Homo sapiens: one gene and its partners. The protein of the gene in region 1 purifies or fractionates together with the protein of each later gene. This does not show direct contact. Each region holds a gene or a part of one and is shown in the gene's direction. Other genes may lie near its edges.

Region 1 (3,500 bases):
GGGAGGAGGGGGTCTAGAGGGAGTAATTTTTTTTAAAAAAGGCTTTCTATCCAAAGATGAACTCTTTCCGAACTTTTATCTTCATGCTTTCCAGTTTTTCTCCTCACTTTGCCTGCTTTTGATTTCAGTTCCCTCCCGTTGACCTCATCCGGAGCATCTTTTAAATCTCCCCCCAAACCCAATTTCTTCTTTGTGTGTGTATGTTTGTTTTGTTTTGTTTTGCTTATTTTTTAATTTAACTCCAGAAATCATTTTTCTATTAGAATGGCTTCTAAATAATTTTAGGAAATTATTTAAGAATTCTAAAAGACATTCACTTAAGAAATGTTCATTGCACTGCTATTCTGTTTAAATTAGCAAATATCCATGCATTTAATTATTGATAAAGCATATCCTTTGCTATAAATACAGGAACTGATGACTCGGTTGTTTCTGAAGATCGACTTAATGAAACTGAACTGACAGATTTAGAAGGCCAACAAGAATCCCCTCCTAAAAATTACCTTTGTATAGAAGAGGAGAAAATCATAGACCATTCTCACAGTGATGGATTACATACCATTCATGAGCATGATCTCCATGCTGCTGCACATAACCACCACGGCGAGAACAAAACTGTGCTGAGGAAGCATAATCACCAGTGGCACCACAAGCATTCTCATCATTCCCATGGCCCCTGTCATTCTGGATCCGATCTGAAAGAAACAGGAATAGCTAATATAGCCTGGATGGTGATCATGGGGGATGGCATCCACAACTTCAGTGATGGGCTCGCAATTGGTAAGTGGACTGGAAACCACTGTCTATGCTAATCTTATGGACTATAATATGTATGATTAAATTTGGCTGGAGCTTAACAAATATATGGTTATGTATCACTCTGGTCAGTTGATTTTTCCCAAAGGCTACAGTTTTGTGTTCAGTTGTTACATTTGGAGGTGTAAGGGTATAATTTAGTGGGGTTTTTTAGAACACGTAAACAAATGTCTGTAGTATATTTCTTTAATAACTTGATTTCTCAAAGTAGAGTTACCATATTGAAAAAACTGCTTAACATTATATTTTCAAATGTATTTACATATCCCTAAAAGAGAACAGTTTAATTTCAATCCTAGGTTTAATAAATTTGCCATATCTTTGAAAAAGCAAAAAAAAAAATTTACAACATTGAAAATCCATTGTACTAAATTCAAATATATTAGTATCTTGCTAGAGTAAACGGATATTACCAGTTAAAAGGAACATTAAATGTGATCAATACATAATTTTCTTTGAGATCCAGACTCTTTTAGCACCCAGAAGTAGGCTTTGGTTTCTTTCAGAAAGCGGAGACCATGTTTTTGAATTTACAGTAGCTGTTTTTGTTTTTTTTTTTAAATAGAGACAGTCTAGATATGCTTCCCAGGCTGGTCTTGAACTCCAGGCCTCAAGCAACCCTTCTGCCTCAGCCTCCCAAAGTGCTAGGATTACAGGCATGAGCCACCTGCTCAGCCTATAGTAGCTGTTAATACTAAAGAATAAATAATTCTGCTAGTAGACCTAGATGCATTTATAAATCTGACCTCAGTCCTCAATACTACCAGACAAGTAATACTTTGTGCCATTTATTTTCCAGGTCTAGGAAAGTTTTGATAAGGATGTTAGCCATTTAAATCCCTATAAAGATCAATGTGAGAGAGCAAGTACAATCTTAGACTTATAAGACTTAAAGTTGACCATCAAACCACTACTTTGAAGTTCTGAAAATTGTTACTATTCCCGAGATATTAGTGAGTTGGAAGGCTACAAAAATAGAGAATTAAATTGAATATGGAATATTGCTTTTATTGAATAGCTATTTCTCTAGTTGTTACATACTTATTATACTCCACTATATGTTCAAAAACTATAGTGTGTAAGATAAGTGAGTCACTCATATGTTAAGAAATTAATTTAGATAGGCAAAAGAAACTGCATCTGTCATTAATGAAAATGTGAAGAGTTAAGATCAGCAAACCTCACTTGTTTTTTTTCTTATCTTCCTCAGGTGCAGCTTTCAGTGCTGGATTGACAGGAGGAATCAGTACTTCTATAGCCGTCTTCTGTCATGAACTGCCACATGAATTAGGTAATATAACCTTAAAAATTTTACCAGATTTCATCAAATCTAAGACTTCCTTAATTGTAATTGCATTCAAATTTCAGAGATGTTCAAGCATAAAAAATGGCTGATGGCAACTATAGTGTCACTAATTGTAAGATACTTCATGATGTTAAAATATGAAAAAAAAAATGCTCCTTAAGATTGATGAAATGTTCATTTCTGTGTGGTTTCCTTTGCATTCAATAACATAGTTATGCTGTTATAATGAAGATTATAGATTATGACTGGTTCACTAAGTATAACTTTTAAAAAGAAATATTTCTTAAATGCCACATTTTGCTGTTAATCTACTTTTATTTCATATACCATGTAGACTATATTTTTAAAAGAATCAGGGTAAAGTTTGTAATTACATAATTGAAAGTTGTCCTAGATGTACCTAAGGCAGTCTTTCTTCATAAATAATAGAAAGTTAATATTGATGTTCAAAAATGTTACCTGGATGGTTATTAAAGATAGATAGGTTCTTAACTCGGTTACTAACCAGCACTGAGGTTTTAGAGTAATCATTTATTTCCAAAGCTCTTATTTTATGAAGTAAGAAGGTTGGATGATTTCTGTTTTCATTTTATATATTTTAATATTATAATCTTAATACCCAAAAATCTAGTATGTGTTTCTTATGTGATTTTGGTCGAATGGAACTGAATACTCAAAAAATAATCTTTAAAAACCTATATTTTTCTTTTTTCATTTAAAAAAATGTTTTCTTGTTTATTGATACACTTTCAACTATAGTAATCATATATATTATGTTGGACTTCATTCTTTTTTTTTTTCGAATGCATTTCCCATTTGCCCTTAGAAATGAGCGCTAGAAATGAGCTGCACTTTTTTTTTCTAAAAGGGAAATGGGTTACTTCCTCCTCGCTTTGATTCGCTTTCCTGATACAACCCTTGTGTTTCTTACCTTATGTTACTTATTACTGTGTTTTAAAACTCTCCATCCCGATTACGATGAGTTAATTTAATCTGTTGTTTCTGCCCAGTACTCAGAAATGTGCTTTCGCCACATTTTACATATGTAGCACCTGTTATTGGACACAGCACGTGGCCTTTAATTTCTTCCCATCAGAGATAGTGCATTGAACATTTCTAGACTTGATACCTGTCGACTTCTCTGAGATATACACTCAGAAACAGAATTGACAGGTCTAGGGTATGCATGCTAAAGCAGTATGATTTCCAAACAGCAATATCTGAAAGTTCTTGTTGCCACAACCCTCCCAGCACTTGGCATTAACTTTCTTTTTTTTTTTTTTTCTTTGAGACAGAGTCTTCCTCTGCTGCCCAGGCTGGAGTGCAGTGGCATGATCTTGACTCACTTCAGCCTCTGTCCCCTGGGTTCAAGCGATTC
Region 2 (3,500 bases), on another chromosome or scaffold:
CCCTTGGCACTGAGGAGTCCCCGGAGCTGTTCTAAGGCTGGGACTCTCAAAGTAGGGCCACTTAGGGCCTTGTTAGAAATGCCTGCTTCTCCACAGCCCCAGCCCAGACCTGCCAGCTCAGAACTGTCTGCTTGGCGCCTGGCTCCCTGTCTGTCATCCCTGCGTGGAGCTGTCCCACAGGGATAGGGCGCCCATTGCCCGTGGCAGTGCAGGGGTCTGGCTGCATGCAGGCATTCCCGTTGTCAACATTCTCATGTTTTCTTATGTCCCTGTTGACCTGACTCAGATCAGTCACCTGTGGCCCTGATCAATCACCTGTGACTTAGGTCATCCTGCTGATCCCCTGGGGGCACACAGGCCATGGCTTGGGCCCCCACTTCTACCTAGAGTGTCCAGCCGCCTTCTCCCACTGGTCCCCCTGGCCAGCGCCCGCCACGCCCTGCGTTCTTCATGCCTGTGGCTGCTGGAGAGGATGGTTAGGTGTGGGCTCTGCTTCCCAGGAGCCTCCAGCTGGAAGGAGCAGGACAGGCCAGGGCACCTTTGTTTTCCTCAGAAATTTGGATTGAACTTTAGCTCTTGACTGGCTTTTTCAAGGCTGGGAAAATAAATGTTTTTTCTTATAAGAAGGTGGCTTAAGAAACAAAAGTTGTACTGTTTGGTGTGACCAAGTGTCATTCTAGTGTTTGTGGAGATTTGGCTTAAGCCTGTCACTTCTAAGTACTTTGCAGAACAAAACCTTGTTGGGTTCCTGAAGATCTGCCTGGCAGTGATGGTTGCTGGGTTTGTGATGGAAGATGAGGCACCAGGGCCTGGGGCTACACTTTGGCCCGTCTGACCGGTGAGATCTCCGAAATGCCTCTGCAGTCTTGAGTGGACAAGAGGGTGCACCCTAAAGGCAGGGCCTGTGTCCCCGTGCGCCCTCTGTGGCCCTGGTGCCTGTTCCCTCCCATCTCCTTCACTTGGTCAGCCTGAGAAAACAGGGCAGGCCACCACCCACAACAGGCTGAGTCCTCCTAGACCTGCCCTCAGGAGGGCGGGAACGCTTATGTTGTAGATGATAGCACATGAGGTTGCGTGGAACAGGCCGAGTCCTCCCACACCTGTCCTCAGGAGTGCGGGGGCGCTCATGTTGCAGGTGATAGCACGTGAGGTTGCGTGGGATAGTCACGGTCACGCAGCTGAGTGACAGGCCGGGATGGGTGTCCAGGTGTGGGTGACCTGGAGCCATGGCAGTTCATTCCTGTGTCTTTGTAGAGGACAGGTGGGGGTTGGGAGCTGGACACATCCGACATCTCTTGAAGGAAGGGTAGGGCATTCTGTGATTGCTGCCAGCTCCTCTGTCCCACTTGGTCTGGTTTCTTGTCTACTCGACTAGGCTGCAGGCTTCTTGGAGATGAATTAGAACTTGGTGTTCCCCACAGGCTCATTGTCCGTTTACTGGAAAAAGAAACAATAAGGGCCAGAGGGAGGGGGACATGCAGGTGTCAGCGGGCATTTGGCGGGGCTGACGGCCCGTGAGAGCTGCCAGGTGCTCACTGGACTCGGGAGGATGGAGAGGGTGGAAGGAGGAAGAGTTGGGCAGTGGAGGCCTCCTGTCTCCTTACGGGCCCAGAAATGGCTTAATGTAGCCCCGCTGTGGCGACCACATGAGTATTTTACAGAAAGGATGGTGCATCGGAGCAGCCGGGCTCCCCGCTGGCCTCCCCAGTGGCTGTGGTTGGTGCGTCTGAGACTACACCGAGAGACCCAGGCCACTTACTTGTTGTTGAAGTAAGACGGGATGGTTTGCTAAGAGGGCCTTACAGCCACGTCCAGGGAGCCGTCTCCGCTGTGTCATGCCGGTCGTCGTGCCATGGGGTGACCCAGGTCATAAGCACTGCTTGGGCTTCCCTGACAGAGGACGGGCTGAGGGACTGTCATTCCCTACCAACAGATAAACAGCATTGGAATTGCTGTCACCTCGGAGCACCCTTCGAGGCTGAAGAACGTGTAGTTTTGGTTTACCAGAATTGAGTTAAATGCTGGGGATCAAGAGTCCATGGGACCCAGCCCTGCCCTCAGTCCCCAGATGAGGCGACCGTAGCGTGTGCCCGGGTTTTCTCAGACCAGCCCTTGGCAACTTCTAGGTGATTTGTGTTAGGCTCTCCTGGTCGCTAGGTGGGTTTCATTTCTACCCAGGCCTGTTATTCCAAACTTGTGCCTTGAACTTGGAGCTTAGCTAAGAAGACCTTTGCTCAGCCAAGAGGGGGCTCCACCCAGAGAGGGTCTTCTCCAGGGACTGGTATGCGGAGTTCGAGACCCCAGCATGGCCCTGACTCAGGAAGGAGAGGCTGCAGTGGACCTCTGTCCCTTAAACACAGCTCCCTAGTTGCCTTTCAACTTGGGAGATTGTTTTATCTTTACTGTAATCATTTTCTAGAACGATTTGATACTGGACTATACATTAGACTTCTGTAGACTTTTTCATTAGAACGTGACAAGCAGTAAAGAGTTAACCTTGTTAGATTCAGTATTAGAGTTATTTGACAAGCACATTTGAAATAAATGTTAATCTACTATATATAGAAGCTTAATTATTTCCCAAGTATTTTTAAGACTGGAGTCCTAAAATAGCCAGGCTCTTGAGCAGAAGTGAGAATAGGCCTGCGGTCTCATTTCTGCCTCCCTTTGGAACCCCCTGGCTGTGCTGGGTTGGGCACCCCCGCCCCTGCCACACCCTGTGCCTCTCAGCTGGCTCTAACCCCAGAGGCCCAATGAAAGCAGGCCATTTGCATTCTGCTTTAGAGGTTCAGAGCTAGACAGGTGGGCAGAGCAGGAGAAGGGGAGGGTACCCGTTGAATGAGGCCAGTGCCCTGAAGCTAAGCCTTTTACGTGTTTTGTATTTGATTTGATAATATGGACTACCATATCTTTTGTGTTGCCATGAATACCGTCCATCTGCCGAGTCCTTGCCGGTACTCCTGGCGCCTGTTCAGCTGCTGAGGGAGGCCTGTGTAACTGAAATTCTCCCTCATCTGCTCGGCCTTCCCTGAGCACACGGCCTGGCATTCTTTCAAGGACAGACAAAGGCGACGTGGGGTGCCCGCATGCCCCTTCACCAGGACTGACCCTGAGTGGGGTGGTGGTGTTGGGAGCGTAGCTCTACTGAGGCAGGTCGAGGTGCTGCCCCTGCGGACTGGTGGATGGAGCTGGACTTCCCTCGCCCTGCAGTGTGTGCAGGGGCTCTGCGTGAATTCACGCTCCGGGATGAATTTGCGCTGGAAATTCATCTGTTGGAGGAACAGCAGGGAACAAAGCAGGGAGGTCCCCACCTGAGGAAGCCTGTGCTTTAGAGGGAGTAGCAGACAGTCAACAGGAAGACAAATAAAACAAGGAAGTGGCCGGGGCAGTGGCTCCCGCCTGTAATCCCGGTACTTTGGAAGGTGGGAGGATCACTTGAGCCCAGGAGTTCAAGACCAGCCTGGGCAACATAGCAAGATCCCCACTCCTGTGGCCCCAGC
Region 3 (3,500 bases), on another chromosome or scaffold:
TTGTAACATTTTGTGCTCACCCACATAGTAGAGTAATCACATTCTCAAAGTATTTGTTTTTCTCTCTCCCTGGAATAAGATCTTCTTGGAGCCATCGAGAGACTATGTCTATCTTTATATCCCTAGGCTTTTGCATTTGCTATGGTGAAATTTGTCCCTAAAAGCTGATATGTTGGAAACTTAATCCCCAATGCAACAGTGTTGAGAGGTGAGACCTTTAGTAGGTGATTAGGTCATGAGGGCTCTGCTCTCATGAATGGATTACTGTCCTTATCATGAGAATGGGTTTATTATCATGAAAGCTTATTGTAAAAGCAAGTTCAGCCCCCTGTTGCTCCTCTCTCCCTCTCTCCCTCTCCCTCTCACTCGTGCTCTTTTGCCCTTCCACCTTCTGCCATGGGATGGGCCCTCGCCAAATGTGAACTCCTTGATCTTGGACTTCCCAGACTTCATAACTGTAAGAAATAAATCTCTGTTCTTTAAAAATTAACCAGTCTCAGGTATTCTGTTATAGCAGCACAAAATGAATGAAGACAGTATCTGGGCACATAATTAGAAACTGATAAATGTCTGTTGAATGAATGAATGAATGAATGAATAAAAGGTTGAACAAATATTCTCTCTCCTTTGCCTTCTCATGACAACTTAGAATCCATTTCCTCTCAACATGAATTATTTCATTTTATTATTTCAGTGCTCTGCCAATGGATTTATGACCCAAACTACCAACAACTCTAGCCAAGGTTTTTGTGGTACTATGGGATCAGGAATGAAAAATGGAGGGCAGGAAACCATTGAAATGATGAAAGGAGGAAACCAGACCTTGGAATCCTGCCGGGGGGCTGGGCATCATCATACCCTGGACTCCTGCAGGGGAGGACACACGGAGGTGGACAACTGCAGATACACTTACTCGGAGTGGCACAGTTTTACTCAACCCCGTCTCGGTGAAGTGAGTTTCCTTAGGTGTTTTGAGTCTAAAATTTAAACCTCCGAATGGAGAAAAATAGACAATTCAAATTAACATATATTTTCTGTATTTTTCTGTGGGCTCTCTCTTGCTTGCTCTGTTCATTTTCCCGTGCTCTTTGATTTTGTTACATTATTTAATTTAAAAGAGATTTTATTTCATTTTTCATATTTCATTTAATTTATAAAATCCCATAAATATAGGATGTTTTTAATATTCTTCACTAACGTCTCATTTTTAGTTGTGTATTTACCTCATGAACCCTTTTGATATAGAAGATCGTGAAAGTAATTCTAGTTCCTCACAATTACAAACTTTTCAAATGAAATCTGTATTTCTCTGTGAAAACACCAACATTTGTATGCAGTTTTAGGATAAAGATTAAATAGCATGATTTATATATATTTTTATCTTATTGCAAATTGACAAAATTTAATTGTATATGTTTATGGGGCACAAAGTGATATTATGATTTATGTCTGCAATGTAGAATGATTAAATCACACTTAACATATGCATCACCTCAAATACTTATTTTTTGTGGTGAGAACATTTGAAATGTACTTTCTTTGCAATTTTGAAATATAACATATACTATTATTAACTATAGTCACCATTGCAGGACATATTTTAAATATACAAAGCACCATGCGAATGTAAAGTGCTTTTATTTTAAGGAAAGCAAGAATATGAAAGAAAGAAGGAATTAAAATAAGGAATTCTCTGTTCATACCAAAATCACCTATGAAGCAGAAGCTTTTTTCTTTCTTTTCTTTTTTTTTTTTTTTTTTTTTTTTTTTTAAGGCAGGGTCTTGCTCTGTCGCTGAGGCTGGAGTTCAGTGGTGCAATCTCCACTCACTGCAGCCTTGACCTCCTGGGCTCAGGTGATCCTTCTATGTCAGCCTCCTGAGTAGCTTGGACTACAGGTATACACCACCACACCTGGATAAATTTTGTATTTTTTGTGGAGAAGGTGTTTTGCCATGTTGCCCAGGTTGGTCTCCAATTCCCAGGCTCAAGTGATCCACCCACCTTGGCCTCCCAAAGTGCCGGGATTATACGCATGAGCCACTTGGCTTGGCAAAATCCTCTATGAAGCTTTTAAAACATAACTAATGGCTGTGTTCTACTCTAAAAGATTCTAATTTAATGAATTTGGGGTTTTTTGTTTGTTTTGTTTTTGTTTTACATTTCCGAGATGATTCAAATGTGCAGCTAGGTAGAAAGCCACTGGATTAGACACTCTTCTGGACTAAATTTTTACCTCTTTTATCAGAGGATACCAGTGCCATTGCAGGACAAACAGTAGACCTTTAATCCTTGAATGGAATGCAAATGGGTGATACTCTGGTATAGGGCTGTAGGTTATGTATCCATAGCATTTTGGAGGGTCAAATTCAAGTGTTAATTCTTTTTCTACTTCTAGACAGTCAGTATTTATGTAATATCAGGTTGAGATGGAGTGAAGCTTAAGACATAGTCTTAGGAGGGTTCCTCAGTTGCACACCAGGTAATGGGAGGTAAGGCTAACAATGTCATGAAGAAAGAACGTAAGCCATGCCAATGAACTCCACATAGGCAAGGAGTGGGCACACAGGTGAGGAAAGGGAGGAGACATGGCAGTTGACGAGTTGGCAGACAGGCCAGTGGCAGAGAGGGTAGATGTGGCTGAATGCATGGCGTCTTCATTATAAAAGCCCAGTTTTTGCAATATGGGTCATGTTCATTCTTTTTAATTTCATTGAACTTTTCGATGCATGTATATATTTTGCCATGTTTGAGTATCTTGGAAACTTGCTTCTGAAGTTAATGTGGTAAATCCTACCTAGTTTATAACTGCATATAATAGTGATTCAAGTTAACATGTATTGTACCTTTAATATGTGCTGGGCATAATAAGTGTATTATGCGTCATTATTTTGTCATTAATTTCTAAAATAATCTTGTTAGGTGGTCACTGAGACTAAAGGATATTTGGTCACTTGCCCAAAGTCATATAGCTAGTTGGTAAAGCCAGAGCTTTGACTCACAACCAAGGCTGTTTGACATCCTATCTCAAACTCCTAACCAGTATGACTATTGTCTCTATTTTTTAGACTAGACTGACCTCTGTGTATAAAATTTAGGGATAAGCATTTAATGACAACTTGAATGTACTTAAATATAAAACTTGTATACATAATTTTTTATTTATATGGAGCACTAGAAATGTAAACTATACTGACTTTATGGTATGGTTGTGATATAGACCAATCATTTGCATTTTCTGTGTGTAGGAATCCATTAGAGGACACACTGGTTAAAAATTAAACATAAAAGGTAAATAAAAATAAATTTTATGTTCATATATTTAAGTTGTTTAAAACTATAATGCAATTCATTTTTTAAAAAATTTTACAGAAATTGCATCGATGTAATCAGAATGAAGACCGCATGCCATCCCAAGATTATGTCCTCACTTATAACTATGAGGGAAGAGGATCTCCAGCTGGTTCTGTGGGCTGCTGCAGTGAAAAGCAGGAAGAAGATG
Region 4 (3,500 bases), on another chromosome or scaffold:
AGAGATAAAATGTGATAAGAATTCACTGAATTTGGTAATTGAAATGAGCACATAGTATATGAGGACTAAATCTCAGTAATTTGTACCATCCATGTCAGTAAATGGAACCTCCATACATCTAATTGTGCAGGCCAGAAACCTAGGGTCCATCCCTGATTCTTCCCTGTCCTTCACATCCAATCAGTTCTCCCATCTTTAAAATGCATCTGGAATTGATGTTTTTTCTACCTCCACTCCTAGCCTTTTAGTCAAAGTCACCACCATTTCTTGCCTATATTACTGTGATAGCCTCCCAGCTGCTCTTCCTCTTTTTCCCCCTCTGGAGTCTTGCTCTGTCTCGCCCAGGCTGGAATGCAGTGGCACAATCTCGGCTTACTGCAACCTCCATCTCCCAGATTCAAGTGATTCTTCTTGTGCCTCAGCATCCCAAGTAGCTGGGACTACAGGCATGCACCACCATGCCTGGCTAATTTTTGATTTTTCTATTTATTTTTAAATTTATTTTATTTATTTATTTTTTGGGGGATGGAGTCTCGCACTGTTGCCCAGGCTGGAGTGCAGTAGCGTGATCTCGGCTCACCACAACCTCCACCTCCCTGGTTCAAGCGATTCTCCTGCCTTAGCCTCCCGAGTAGCTGGGACTACAGGCGCATGCCACCATGCCCAGCTAATTTTTGTATTTTTTAGTAGAAACTGGGTTTCACTATGTTGGCCAGGCTGGTCTCGAACTCCTGACCTGGTGATCCACCCGCCTTGGCCTCCCAAAGTGCTGGGATTACAGGCGTGAGCCACCACATCTGGCTGATTTTTTTATTTTTAGTAGAGACAGGGTTTCACCATGTTTGCCAGGTCTGGAACTCCTGACCTCAAGTGACCGGCCTGCCTCAGCCTCCCAAAGTGCTGGGATTACAGGCATGAGCCACCACGCCCAGTACTCATCTTGGTTCGTTTTAATCCATTCTTCACAAAACTGCAAGAATGATTTTGTTAAAATGCAAATCAGATCATGTTGCCTTCTTTTTTAAAATCCTTAATGGCTTCCCATTGCACTTGGAATGAAATCTAAACTTCCCATGGCCTGAAAAGCTCTTTGTGATCTGGTTTCTGCTTACCTCTATGACCTCAACTTGTACCACCCACCACCCCTTTCTCACTATATTCAAGCCACACTGCCATCTTTCTGCTCTGTGACACTCATTCCCACCTCCTAGCCTTTGAACTAGCTGTTCTGATGTTGCCCAGGGCTGGCTCCTTTCCATCACAGAGGCTCTAAGTTTCACATCTTTAGAGAGGCCTCTCTGACCACCTTATTCTAGGGTACTTACCTGTTACTATTTGCTGGTTTGCCGTTTACTTCCTTATTGTAATTTCTATATGGTTTTTCTTCTCTTTTTTTTCCTCCATCAGAATCTGGGACAGACAAATCATCTGTCTTGTTTATAGAAGTATTCCTAGTGCTTAACACAGTGGATATGGTAGATGCTAAAAATATTTGTTAAATGGCAGTGAGGCATAGGCATGTCTTGACAACAGTTTGTTAGGAGTTTGCAATATGTAGTTATGATTTAGCATGGTATAGTAGGTCCTCAATATGTGTTTATGCAAGAAGAATATTTTTCCAAAGTGTGATTTCATGCACTGCTTATTTCTCATTATCAGTTCCCTTGGCCTTTTACTTATTTACTAGTCAGGATAGTAAAATAGAAACTTAGTCTTATAAAATATGTATATTTTTTACTCCAACTCCAGGATATCCACTAGGCTTAGATGCTGCCAAAAGAAAAAGATAAATGTTAAGTGAAAGACAGCTATGTGCAAAAGAACATAAAATGCAAGTTTGTGTTTTCATTAAGTCTAATTTATTTACTTATTCAACGTAAATGAACACCTACTGGGCACAAGGCACTGTTTATGTATGGGATGCAGCAGGGAGCCTAGATGCTAGTGAGAAGTGACAGACAGGAAACATCTACTCAAATAAATAATACCAAAGGACAGATTAAATTCCCAACAATCACAACTTTTAAGAAAATATGATTGATCTAATATGAAAATTTGCAGCAAATTTTTGAAAAATGGAACATCTTATTTGTATTATAAAATATTTTTAAAACTTATAAGGGATATGTTATAGGGTTTCTTTAAAGATTGGTCTTTCCCACTGAGTTTTAAAAACATGATTTAATTGGGAAAAACATAGCTTTTCAGAAATATTGCTGTTTCCCCTCTATCCAGTAGATGCTGGTCTACCTACTAAATATTTCTCACCATCCACTTTGCATCCACACTGGAGCTAATATAGTACAGCCACAGTCATGTCTCTACTGGATGATTAGAGCCTTCTAACTGGAGCCTGACTGTTTTTGAGTTATATCTTTTATCTGAGAATTTGAATTATTTGTGTAAGACATACATCTCATGTGTACCTCAACCTTGGAAAGATTTTTAATCTTGCTCTCTAAGACCACAGATGTCATTTTAAAAGGGAGAGTAAAATGGTAAGCTTTGGCATATAATTTATTATAGATTAGTCTTTAGCCCCATCGAAGACGGTATAATTATTAGAAGAACTAGAAGCATCTCCTGAGGTCTCAAGTGTCATATGGCTCTGAGACTTGACCCCTAAGGCTGGTGATATTAAGCCTTCATGTATCTTGAATGATATTCCTTTTTTCCTTTTCCACTCTTACTTTGCTAAGTCGTTTGACATTAGCAGTGCCCTAGAGTCCAGACAAAAGTCTTTGGAATTTTTGCTGCCGTAAGAAAGCAGAGGTCAGTTGGCTCCGTTCACCATAGTGCATAAATTGAGAAATTGTGGTTGTCTCCTGGGATCTTTATATCTTTGCCTTTAAACCCCTTTGTTTATTCATTATCTTTTTTCTTTCTTTTCCTTTTTTTTTTTTTTGAGACAGAGTCTCGTTTTGTCGCCCAGGCTGGAATGCAGTGGTGCAACCTCGGCTCACAGCAACCTCTGTCTCCCAGGTTCAGTGATTCTCCTGCCTCAGCCTCCCAAGTAACTGGGATTACAGGCATAAGCCACCACGCCCAACTAATTTTTTTTTTTTTTTTTTTTCTGAGGCAGAGTTTCACTCCTGTTGCCCAGGCTGGAGTGCAGTCGCGCCATCTCGGCTCATTGCAGCCTCTTCCTCCCACGTTCAAGCGATTCTTCTGCCTCAGCCTGCCGAGTAGCTGGGATTACAGGTGCCTGCCACCACGCCTGGCTAATTTTTTTGTATTTTTAGTAGTGATGGAATTTTGCCATGTCGGGCAGGCTGGTCTCCAACTCCTGACCTCAGGTGATCCACCCAAAGTGCTGGGATTACAGGCGTGAGCCACCGTGCCCTGCCCAAATTTTTTTTCTTTTTTTTCTTTCTTTCTTTCTTTTTTTTTTTTTTTTTGTATTTTTAGTAGAGATGGGGTTTCACCATATTGGCCAGGCTGGTCTCGAACTCCTGACCTCAGGTGATCCACCCGCCTCGGCCTCCCAAAATGCTAGGATT
Region 5 (3,500 bases), about 78 Mb from region 1:
GTGGATGGTCTTGAACAGGTACTTTTTATCAATAACTGAAAACTGTAGGGATCTTACTTGGTGTTTTTATGTAATTGTTGGAAGGATCATTCAGAAAGCAAATGGGTTAATGAACTTTTAAAATGCTGTAGGTGAGGCATGACAGTTTACACACTGTGTTTATCAGTGCTCTTGATGAAATTACACAAGTTAGGAAATGGAAAATGTCCACTTGGTTCATTTGTATCTGTCTGCTTAAACGCTTTCTAGGGATATGTTGTTTGTCCTTCTGAAAAGAGATTCCTTCTGCTCTTTACATTCCTTAAGAAGAACCGAAAGAAGAAGCTTATGGTCTTCTTTTCATCTTGTATGTCTGTGAAATACCACTATGAGTTGCTGAACTACATTGATTTGCCCGTCTTGGCCATTCATGTAAGTGATGATGATGAGCTCATTGAAAACAGGGTATGCTTATTAAATCCTATAGATTGTAGGATTGGAGGTATTGCCCTCTCCTGGAAACATTGTTCTGAGTAGTTTGATCACCACTAGATGATGGATCCTGTGTGGGGGAGCGCTGCTGGGTGTGGAGGGGTATGAGGACTTTCGAAGAGTGCAAGACACCATCCTCCTTGAGGGGCTTGCGGAACAGTTGGGGAAATAGGACATAGGCCAAGGGATGAGCTCGAAATAGGGTAACAGTTCCACAATTTGGGGGTTCTACTGCTAGTCTTCCTCAAGATTCCAGCTCTAATGGATGTTTTTATTTAATTCTAGGGAAAGCAAAAGCAAAATAAGCGTACAACCACATTCTTCCAGTTCTGCAATGCAGATTCGGGAACACTATTGTGTACGGATGTGGCAGCGAGAGGACTAGACATTCCTGAAGTCGACTGGATTGTTCAGTATGACCCTCCGGATGACCCTAAGGTAACTGGCATCTTTGGAATATCTTCAGAATGACTCTGCATTAAAAGTTCACTTATTCTCCCAGTTCCCTGACGGAAACTGCATTCCACATTCAAGGTAAAGATCCCTACTATACAGTGACTGCAGTATTTCTCTGGTATTGAAAAGTACTTAAGGCTTTTCAGGGCTCAAACGGGCTGTGCCAGAGGATTGAAAAGGATCAGTGGGACTTAAGTTATGAAAATGAGATCCTTGGAATGATCTCTTAAGAACAGCAGATGCCTGAAGGAAATAAAATTGCTTAAGGAAGTAGATAAACTTCTGTAGTATATGTGGTAGAATAAGCTTCATTGAGAAGTATTTTCAACAAACACTGGATTAAAGCCGTTTTGATGATGAAGCACACATAATACTCATTTTATTAGATCGCTGTTAATGCAAACATCATGTCCAGCCTTTTTTTTTTTTTTTTTTTTTTTTTTTTGGGCCTCAATCATTGGCCTATTGGGGGTGATGTGCACAGAGCGATTGCTGGCCCAGCTTTGTGGGGGTGTGGTGAAGGTGTGTGTGGCCCAGCACCGTGGGACTACACCATCTCAGTACAGACATGCACATACTCAGGATGCAGATACGCAAATGGGCTCATGTGGAAGTCACTGCGTTAACTCAGATTTTCTTTCTCCACCAAAGGAATATATTCATCGTGTGGGTAGAACAGCCAGAGGCCTAAATGGGAGAGGGCATGCCTTGCTCATTTTGCGCCCAGAAGAATTGGGTTTTCTTCGCTACTTGAAACAATCCAAGGTAAAGATCTGTACTTGGAGAAAGATTTCTCTTGGTGTAGGGATTGTTAGCAAGCAACATTTCTACATGTGTCAGAGGAGTCTCGAGTCTGGCCAGTGCTGTTACAACCATTCTTATGGCAATTAAGCAAGTAAGGTTTTATGTACTTCTAGCCCAAGAAGTGAGCACAGAAGGAACTGCCCACATGGCTCGGCTTTCTAGCTCTGTTACCCAGCAACACCTCTGTGTCCCAGCCTCTCCTTTCCTGTTCCCTCCAGCCCTCTTTGAAACCTTCTCCACTCCTTTGAAGCTCCCTCACACCTAGTCATCTCTGCTTCTGCTCCCCTTCTTTCCTCTTACCTCATGTGAAGCAGTGGGGAATCCTTGTTCGCTCTAGCCTCTGCCTCCTCCCCTGCCCTCTGTCTCCTATTCATCAACTCTTGGCCTACAGTCTCTTCCTTGCGGTTGGCGCTTTACCATCTCAAATTTCTCACTGTAAAAAAGTAACTTCAACCTTAAACCTGTTCTTCTACCCCTGCCTGCAGGAGCTACTGTCTGTTGCCTTTCCTCAGTCAGCCTTACTGGAAAAATGGCTTATATTCTTGCCATTTACCTCCCTCTCAGTCCCTAACCAGCCTAATTTGGCTTTAGCTTTCTACTATCACACCAGAATTGAATCCATCAGGACCCTAAGTGGCCTCTTCATTGCTAGGCCATGTGGGGGATGCATATCAGGCCTTCTCCTGCCTGACATTTACATCCTCATTGGCCTTTCTGGCATAGTCTTGATGATAGGCTTCCTCTACCCTGTAACTGCAGGCAGTTCCCTGAAATTGCTCTACAGCTTTTGCACACTTTGTCCAGAATGCTTGGTTTCAGCTCGCCTCTGTCTTTGCTGGGAAGCCATCGCTGATCTCCTGCCTCCTTGTTCCCACAGCACAGGTGCTCATCAGGTTGACATTTCTTTCTTTCTTTCTTTTTTTATTATTATTACACTTTAAGTTCTAGGGTACATGTGCACCATGTGCAGGTTTGTTACATATGTATTCATGTGCCATGTTGGTGTGCTGCACCCATAAACTCGTCATATACGTTAGGTATATATCCTAATGCTATCCCTTCCCCCTCCCCCCACCCCACGACAGGCCCCGGTGTGTGATATTCACCACCCTGTGTCCAAGTGTTCTCATTGTTCATTTCCCACCTGTGAGTGAGAACATGCGGTGTTTGGTTTTCTGTCCTTGCAATAGTTTGCTCAGAATGATGGTTTCCCGTGTCATCCATGTCCCTACAAAGGACATGAACTCATCCTTTTTTATGGCTGCATAGTATTCCATGGTGTGTATGTGCCACATTTTCTTAATCCAGTCTGTCATTGATGGGCATTTGGGTTGGTTCCAAGTCTTTGTTATTGTGAATAAACATACATGTGCATGTGTCTTTATAGCAGCATGATTTATAATCCTTTGGGTATATACCCAGTAATGGGATGGCCGGGTCAAATGGTATTTCTAGGTCTAGATCCTTGAGGAATCGTCACACTGTCTTCCACAATGGATGAACTAGTTTACAGTCCCACCAACAGTGTAAAAGTGTTCCTGTTTCTCCACATCTCCTCCAGCACCTGTTGTTTCCTGACTTTTTAATGATCGCCATTTTAACTGGTGTGAGATGGTATCTCACTGTGATTTTTATTTGGATTTCTCTGATGGCCAGTGATGATGAGCATATTTTCATGTCTGTTGGCTGCCTAAATGTCTTCTTTTGAGAAGTGTGTGTTCATATCTTTCGCCCACTTTTTGATTGGGTTGTTTGATTTTTTCTTGTAA
Region 6 (3,500 bases), on another chromosome or scaffold:
GCAGGTGCTGGACACCCCTGGCACCTGCCCTCAGGGAGCATTGTGCCCAGGAGCAGATGCAGAGTCCCAGGAAGGAAATACCAATAGAAGTGATATCACCACGCTCGTGACATGGTGACAGAAGGTGCTGACCAGCCAGGAAGTCAGCCCTGCCATGGGAAAGGTGGGGTGTGGGCCTCAGGGAGAAGCTGACATTTGAGTAGACCCTTGAAAGGTGAGACTGAGCCAGGCAGGTGGAGGACTGAGCCCGGCCCCTCAGAGAGAGAGACCAGGCCTGGCCGGGGCAGGTGGAGGAATGAGCCCGGCCCCTCAGAGAGAAAGACCAGGCCTGGCCGGGGCAAGTGGAGGACTGAGCCCGGCCCCTCAGAGAGACCAGGCCTGGCCAGGGCAGGTGGAGGACTGAGCCCGGCCCCTCAGAGAGAGAGACCAGGCCTGGCCGGGGCAAGTGGAGGACTGAGCCCGGCCCCTCAGAGAGAAAGACCAGGCCTGGCCGGGGCAAGTGGAGGAGTGGGGCCGGTCCTTAAGGGTGAAAGACCGGGCCTGGCCAGGACTGAGCCTGTCGGTGCATCAGGAGCAGTGCACTGCACAGCGAGATCCGGGCCAGCTGGAAGGGAGGGGGTTTGCAGAGGTGCCGGAGCCAGATGGAACCCTGTGGTGCCTGGGGAGGAACTTGGATTTTGGATTGAGGGGCAGCCGGCACGTGCAGTGGCAGCAGTTTGGGCAAGGAGGTGATGAACTGAGTTGCTTTTTGTTGAGAACAGTTTTATTATGATATGATTCCCATAGTGTACAATTTGCCCTTTTAAAGTACACAGTTCAGCGCTTGTAGTCCCAGCTACTCGGGAGGCAGAGGCAGGAGAATCCCTTGAACCCGGGAGGCGAAGGTTGCAGTGAGCCGAGATGGTGCGATTGCCCTCCAGCCTGGGCGAGAAAGCGAGACTCTGTTTCAATAAATAAATAAATAATATACAGTTCAGTAAGGTTTTTAGTGTATTCACTGATTTACGCAGCCATCACCACAGTCGATTTTAGAACCTGTTCTTCATCCCAAAAGAAACGCCGTGCATCTTCAGCAGTCCCTCCCTCCCTGCCTCCCTGCCTCCCTGCGTCCCGGTTCCTGGGAAGTGCTGATCTGCTTTCTTTCCCGGGGTGTGCCTCTTGTGGGCAGGCGCATAAATAGAATCGTGCTGTTCTGCATCGGGCTTGTTTTACCAAGCGTGCCGTGTTCGAGGGTCATCCCTGTCACAGCTGAACTTCACACCTGGTTATGGTCGTGTTCCATTACGGTCATGGATGGACCACAGTTAGTTCATCCATATGGACATTTGGGTTGTCTCTACATTTCGGCTGTTATGCCTGATGCTTCTGTGAACATTCGTGTGCAGATTTTTGCGTGGACGGACGCATGTTTTCTCTCGGGTCTATACTAAGGAGTGGAATTGCGGGTTCTTATGGGAGTTCTGGGCTTAACCTTTTGAGGAACTAACTGCCAGGTGTTTCCTATGGCGCCCGCACCAGCAATGGGGGTCTCCCCACTTCTCCTGGTCCTCACCAGCACTTGTTTTCTGAGGCTGGCAGTGGGTGTGAGGTGCTGCCTCCCTGTGGGTTTGGTCTGCCTCTCCCAGACGGCTCATGAGGACATCCTTGCATGTGCCTATCAGATATTTGTCTTTCTTTGGAGGAATGCTTTCTCGGATCCTTTGCCCGGGTTCTAATTGGGTTGTTTGAACTGAGTGACTTCAGGAAGATGAGTTGGTGTGTGGTGTGAGGAGGGCACTTCCAAGAGGCAGGGTGGGAGCCAGGATCGTGGTGGGAGGGAGCGAAAGCCCCAAGGGAAGGGGAATGGGGAGAAGAGAGTGAGGGTGGGAGGGAGGAAAGGGCCAGAGCCCTCCGTGCTGGAGGGGGTGGGGTGGGGGGAACGGCTGGTCTGGGCACCCCAGAGCTCCTCCCCCGCCCCACAAAGGCAGGGCCACATGGGGTGCATGGTGGCTCCAAAGAGGTTGTGGAGTCAGGCTGAGAAGGAGCCACAGGATTTGGTGAAAAGTCAGAGAGGGTGTTAGCCCAGTGGTTGGAGGATGACTTGGGGGGAAGGAAGGGAGGTGGCTGCTCCAGGCTGCAAGTAGAGGGGAAGGAATAAGAGACTGGGGGGAGGAAGAAAGCAGGTGGGTGCCAGAGAAGTTTCTGGGCAGGGAGGGCCACGGAGGGCCAGGAGGAGTTGCTTCCGAGAGTGCGGGGGGAGGAGGAGGTGAGATTGGCAGCAGAAGAAAGGGGATAATTGGCAGGCAGGCCTCCAGAGGGGTGGGCGGGACTTAATAACAACAATAATAACAATCATTTGTGCTAATTGGATCTCTCAAGGGCTGGGGCGAGGGGAACGCACCCCTGCCCGTGCTCCAGGTGCTTCCTCTCTGCAGCGGAGGTCAGAGCCAGGTGAGTAAGCACCTGCAGAGGCTGGGAGAGCCTGAGACCCCGACTGAGAAACGGAGGCTGGTAAGGGAGGCCGGGACCCTCGTTTCAGAAGATGTGCAATTCCCAGCTTTCTGGTAGATTCCTTGAATAGCCCAGGGTTTTCTTGAGAGCAAGTGGGGGGCCTTCTCCTAGGGAGCTGGCCTGGACCCTGAGAGCTGGGTCAGGAGCTGCCTCAGGCCCCCGCAGCTCCTGGTGCCCCCGCCTCTCCCATCGTTCACCTCTGCGGGTGAGGGTCCCATGCCCCCGCCATGAGGTCCTGGGGGTAGGGCCTGATGGATTAGGACACAGGCTTCAGCAGGGGCTGAGAGCATGCCTGGAGGGACGGGAGAAGAAGAGAACTGGGGAGCATTGAATGAACACCCGTCTTAACCCTGGTGAGTCCTCAGAAGCCTCCACTCAGTCCCCACACAGCTCAGCAAGGCACCTGCCCTTCCCGTCCCTGCTTTGCAGAGGAGGCAGCTGAGGCTCAGCCATTTCCGCGGGTGGCAGAGCCGGTGATGACGCCAAGGACTGGTACCGCGGCTGCCCGTTGCTCACAGGGGCACAGTGCTGTCACCCAGGCTGGTTGTTTCACATCTCCCTGGTAGGTGTCGGCCCCTCCCTCTTCTCGGAGAGGAAGTTGGGATGCAGAGCAGTGTGGGCCCTGTCCCAGGTCGCCACGGTGCGGAGTTCCTTCCCGCCTCCCTCTTAGAAGAGCGACCAGACCCTGAGCTCTGGCCCCTCACCCCTTACCCCTCCTCTGCTGCCCCCGGCCCCTCTGGCTATGGAATTTGTGGACCCTTATGCTAAAAGGCAGGAAAAAAGCATCTTCCTTTCCTGGAGGTCTCTGGGTCGGCCAGGGTGTTTTGTGTTTGGCATTTCACCCACGGGTGGGTGCAGAGACCCCCAAGCCCAGGCTAGGAGCCCCCAGCACCAAGCCCTTGTGCCCTTGGACCCCACTTACAAAATATGGGTCAAAGGTGAAGTGACCAGGAATTCCAGGGCAGCAGCTGCTGAGCACGGAGCCCCAGGCTGGGCCTCCCTCCCAGCTG
Region 7 (3,500 bases), on another chromosome or scaffold:
GTAACATGACTGAAAATTATTAGTGTAAGGTGAGGTTAGTATAAGGTGATAGGAAGTTGTCTGTGAAATTCTTGAGAGCTCTTTGAATTTATAACCAAAAGAACTGAATTTGTCTGTTCATTTTACAATCTGTTACAAGGCATTTGGATTGAAAGGATGGAAAGATGGCCGTAGGAAACAAGTAGCTTACTATGTAGGAGGTAGGTACACAAATAACTAATTATTATACAATCCATTTAATAAGCCCTGTACAAAAGGTATCTATATCTATCTATCTATCTATATATATATATCTATATCTATATATATATATATATCTATATATATATATATATATCTATATATAGATATATATATATCTATATATATATATATATATACTGTCACATGACTCAGGGAGGGACATCTCATTGTATATTGATAGGAATGGTACCAGGGAAAGTTTCAGAGATTTTGCCAATAGATGGGGGTGGAGAGTGGGAGGAAGGGTGGAGGGGGCAGTATTGATAGAGCATCCATTTCACATTCTGTATTACCACAAAGTTGTTGGATGGTATTGAGCAAGTCACTTAATGTTTCCGATTCTAAGTTTTTTTAATCAGTAAAATGGGGTTGTTAATACTTACCTAACAGGATTGTTTTAAAGATTAAAGAAGAAAGGATTATTCAAGTAATATCTGTTAAATGTTTTCAGTTGTAAAGCTTTTTACAGTGTATTATTTCTTTGAAAATCAGCTTATTCCATTTTTAGACAGCTATAGTAGTTAAAAGTTCTTTAGTACATTATGCTGATGTCTGTCTTAGAAATGTAAAAATCCTACTTTTCTTATTGCAGACATTCAAATGTCACTGTCCTTACATATACGTAAATCATATGTACCTATTCAGGCTATAGTTTTTTAAAAATAGTAGTTTAAAAGGGGATTAGGGATTTGTCTCATATGAAGTGTAATGAATAGAATGAATATGGTAGGAAAGACGGTTTAGATAAGGATTAAGAAGTAAAAGGCAAATAGTTTCTTTTTTTCTCTGTAAATCATTATTATAGTTTAGTAATTCTATTTAGTACATTGGTAAATGGTAGTACAAAAAAACAGGTTAAGTCTAGACCTTAGACTCTGAGACAGAATCTTAAAAGATTTGTAATCTGAAGTAAGTATGATGCTTCAGTGTCTTCGTATTTTTTCTTTCTAATGCTTTTTTGGGGGTTAACTCTGAAATGAAAAGATCTGACAGTAATTATGTGGAATTGGTCAATAGTGCCAGGAACTGATCTGTATATACCCCTGGGACACAGTAAGGGTCAGTTGAGACTAGTAAACTTATGCATATTTAAAACTTGTGAACAAGTGAAGTGTTTTTTGTTTTGTGTTTTTTTTTGGTGGGGGCAGCATTTCTTAAGCAATTTATTCTAAAAGATAATCTATTTCTATTAAATTTAGTTTTTAAAATGTGTTTTGACATCAGTTTCCAATTTTAGATACAGCTGTTGGACATGATATTCAGTAAAATAACACAACCTTACTATTTTCAAGGCATTGTTTAATATTGTTGGAATTTGAGGTGGGTGGAAAATGGCATTCAGAAAATTATTTCATGAAATAAATGGGACATATGCTAGGACTTAAAAATCTTGAAATTGTTAAGCTTCTACAGTATTTGCAATGGATTTTGGCTGCTATTTAGCAGTATAAATTAAGAAGCTAAGATCTTAGAGAAATTTTAGCAAAAATTCAGTAACCATTAAATCATCCCCGTAATTTTACTATATCTCCCCTCCAGACAGTTCACCAAACTGTGAACACATTAGTCTGTCACCAGTACAGTTGACTAATCTTTATGAACAGCTGTTATAACATGCGTTACTACAATGGGATTTCATTCAAATTTGGGCTTTAAAAAATAATTTTAAAACTTAAGTTAGCTCTTTCTTTCTTTTCTTTCTTATGTGTCTGTCTGTCTTTATTTTGATGGAGTCTCTGTCATCCAGGCCGGAGTGCAGTGGCGTGATCTCAGTTCACTGTAACCTCTGCCTCCCGGGTTCAAGCAATTCTCCTGCCTCAGCCTCCCGAGTAGCTGGGATTACAGGTGCTCACCACCACGCCTGGCTAATTTTTGTGTTTTTAGTAGAGACGAGTTTCACCATGTTGGCCAGGCTGGTCTCAAACTCCTGACCTTAGGTGATCTGCCCACTTAGGCCTCCCAAAGTGCTGGGATTATAGGTGTGAAGCCACCGCGCCTGGCCCCTTTAAGCATTTTCTATGCTTTTGATGACATATACTTTCTAAGAGTGTTTTCAAGCTTAAACTTTTTTTTTTTTTGTAGAAATGCCAGTTATGTAGAAAATCGATATTCACATTTTAGATTGTATGTTTTATTAATAGTTTTTTTGAAGTTAGTTTGTTTATACTAAGAACTTTCAAGTTTAACAAAAATCAGTCTTGCATGGTAACACATCTCTTGGTCTGTACTTATTTTCTCTCTTAAGGCAAACTGCAAAGCTATGTTCCTTTTAATGGAATATTATGAGGTAATGAAGTATTATAAAATATTTTATATTGTATAAAAGGAATTTTGATCTTTTAAATTTAGTATACAATATTTTTGGTCATGTAGGAGAAAAAAGAATACAAGCACTTTTAAGTAGACTCTATTTTAATCTATTAGTCTCATGTCATTTATTTTTTGTAAGTAAATAAACAATACCAAAATGTATTCTTTTATGTATCTTTACTCATATATTCCATGTCCACCCTTTTCATGACTGTGTTATGGCATGATAGAATGAAATGGCCTTATTAACCTGGCAGGATGGTGGATATTGATCAAAGGGTTATCGTGATATTTTAAAGGCTTGTTTTTTAGAATAAGGTAAATATACCATAGCATACTGTTTGATTTCAGTATGTAAGATAATCCTGAACATCAAGATTTTGACATGTATTTGTTTTTGCATGGCATACATATAGATGATGCTATAAAGACTGAGTTGAAGATTTCTGTTTGATTCTATAAGTCCCAACATGATCTGGTCCTTGCTTCACTCTCCAGATTCCCTTACCGCAAGTCATTTCCCCATTCATTTCACTGCAGCTGCTTTGGTCTTTTATTCATTTCTGAGAAGATACTTTCAGGCTTTTCATGTGCCTGAACTGCCCCATCTCCAGTCTGCTTAATATTAAACTCATCCTTTAGGTCTCAGCCTGGGTGGAGATCACTTAGGTTAAATAATCAATCTTAACATTATTTTTCCAGCATAATGTTGGCTTCTGGAATGCTCTTATGTAATATATAAACCGTTACCTTTATAAAATCTGAAAAATTCTTAAACAGATGATAAATAAGCAAAAACAAAAACAGAAACAAAAACAAAACAAAAAATAAACCCAAAAAAACCACCCCAAACTAATAAAGTTTAACTTCAACAAAAGGATATTGGCTTGAGGGAGGTTGTGTTAATCTATCTTTTGAATTCATTTTGACTGTTGTAAAGATAATTA

What was found.
Region 2: the proteins of SLC39A10 (region 1) and QSOX2 purify together in Homo sapiens (affinity purification with mass spectrometry; one large-scale study listed by BioGRID and IntAct). This does not show direct contact.
Region 3: the proteins of SLC39A10 (region 1) and DSC3 purify together in Homo sapiens (affinity purification with mass spectrometry; one large-scale study listed by BioGRID and IntAct). This does not show direct contact.
Region 4: the proteins of SLC39A10 (region 1) and MPZL1 purify together in Homo sapiens (affinity purification with mass spectrometry; one large-scale study listed by BioGRID and IntAct). This does not show direct contact.
Region 5: the proteins of SLC39A10 (region 1) and DDX18 purify together in Homo sapiens (affinity purification with mass spectrometry; one large-scale study listed by BioGRID and IntAct). This does not show direct contact.
Region 6: the proteins of SLC39A10 (region 1) and ZNF787 purify together in Homo sapiens (affinity purification with mass spectrometry; one large-scale study listed by BioGRID and IntAct). This does not show direct contact.
Region 7: the proteins of SLC39A10 (region 1) and DIPK2A purify together in Homo sapiens (affinity purification with mass spectrometry; one large-scale study listed by BioGRID and IntAct). This does not show direct contact.

The regions. Positions count from the first base shown.
Region 1 is NC_000002.12:195,716,226-195,719,725, forward strand, and holds part of SLC39A10 (zinc transporter ZIP10 precursor), read left to right. Parts: intron 1-411; coding exon 412-780; intron 781-2,026; coding exon 2,027-2,107; intron 2,108-3,500. UniProt on the Homo sapiens protein: Zinc-influx transporter. When associated with SLC39A6, the heterodimer formed by SLC39A10 and SLC39A6 mediates cellular zinc uptake to trigger cells to undergo epithelial-to-mesenchymal transition (EMT).
Region 2 is NC_000009.12:136,239,313-136,242,812, reverse strand, and holds part of QSOX2 (sulfhydryl oxidase 2 precursor), read left to right. Parts: intron 1-3,500. UniProt on the Homo sapiens protein: Catalyzes the oxidation of sulfhydryl groups in peptide and protein thiols to disulfides with the reduction of oxygen to hydrogen peroxide. May contribute to disulfide bond formation in a variety of secreted proteins.
Region 3 is NC_000018.10:30,994,243-30,997,742, reverse strand, and holds part of DSC3 (desmocollin-3 isoform Dsc3a preproprotein), read left to right. Parts: intron 1-694; coding exon 695-952; intron 953-3,246; coding exon of another isoform or gene 3,247-3,273; exon of another isoform or gene 3,274-3,289; intron 3,290-3,370; coding exon 3,371-3,500. UniProt on the Homo sapiens protein: A component of desmosome cell-cell junctions which are required for positive regulation of cellular adhesion. Required for cell-cell adhesion in the epidermis, as a result required for the maintenance of the dermal cohesion and the dermal barrier function.
Region 4 is NC_000001.11:167,724,982-167,728,481, forward strand, and holds part of MPZL1 (myelin protein zero-like protein 1 isoform a precursor), read left to right. Parts: intron 1-3,500. UniProt on the Homo sapiens protein: Cell surface receptor, which is involved in signal transduction processes. Recruits PTPN11/SHP-2 to the cell membrane and is a putative substrate of PTPN11/SHP-2.
Region 5 is NC_000002.12:117,824,691-117,828,190, forward strand, and holds part of DDX18 (ATP-dependent RNA helicase DDX18), read left to right. Parts: coding exon 1-18; intron 19-249; coding exon 250-411; intron 412-756; coding exon 757-909; intron 910-1,578; coding exon 1,579-1,692; intron 1,693-3,500. UniProt on the Homo sapiens protein: ATP-dependent RNA helicase that plays a role in the regulation of R-loop homeostasis in both endogenous R-loop-prone regions and at sites of DNA damage.
Region 6 is NC_000019.10:56,111,296-56,114,795, reverse strand, and holds part of ZNF787 (zinc finger protein 787), read left to right. Parts: exon of another isoform or gene 1-233; intron 234-391; exon of another isoform or gene 392-976; intron 977-2,350; exon of another isoform or gene 2,351-2,430; intron 2,431-3,500. UniProt on the Homo sapiens protein: May be involved in transcriptional regulation.
Region 7 is NC_000003.12:143,978,323-143,981,822, forward strand, and holds part of DIPK2A (divergent protein kinase domain 2A isoform a precursor), read left to right. Parts: intron 1-3,500. UniProt on the Homo sapiens protein: May play a role in cardiomyocyte proliferation through paracrine signaling and activation of the PPI3K-AKT-CDK7 signaling cascade.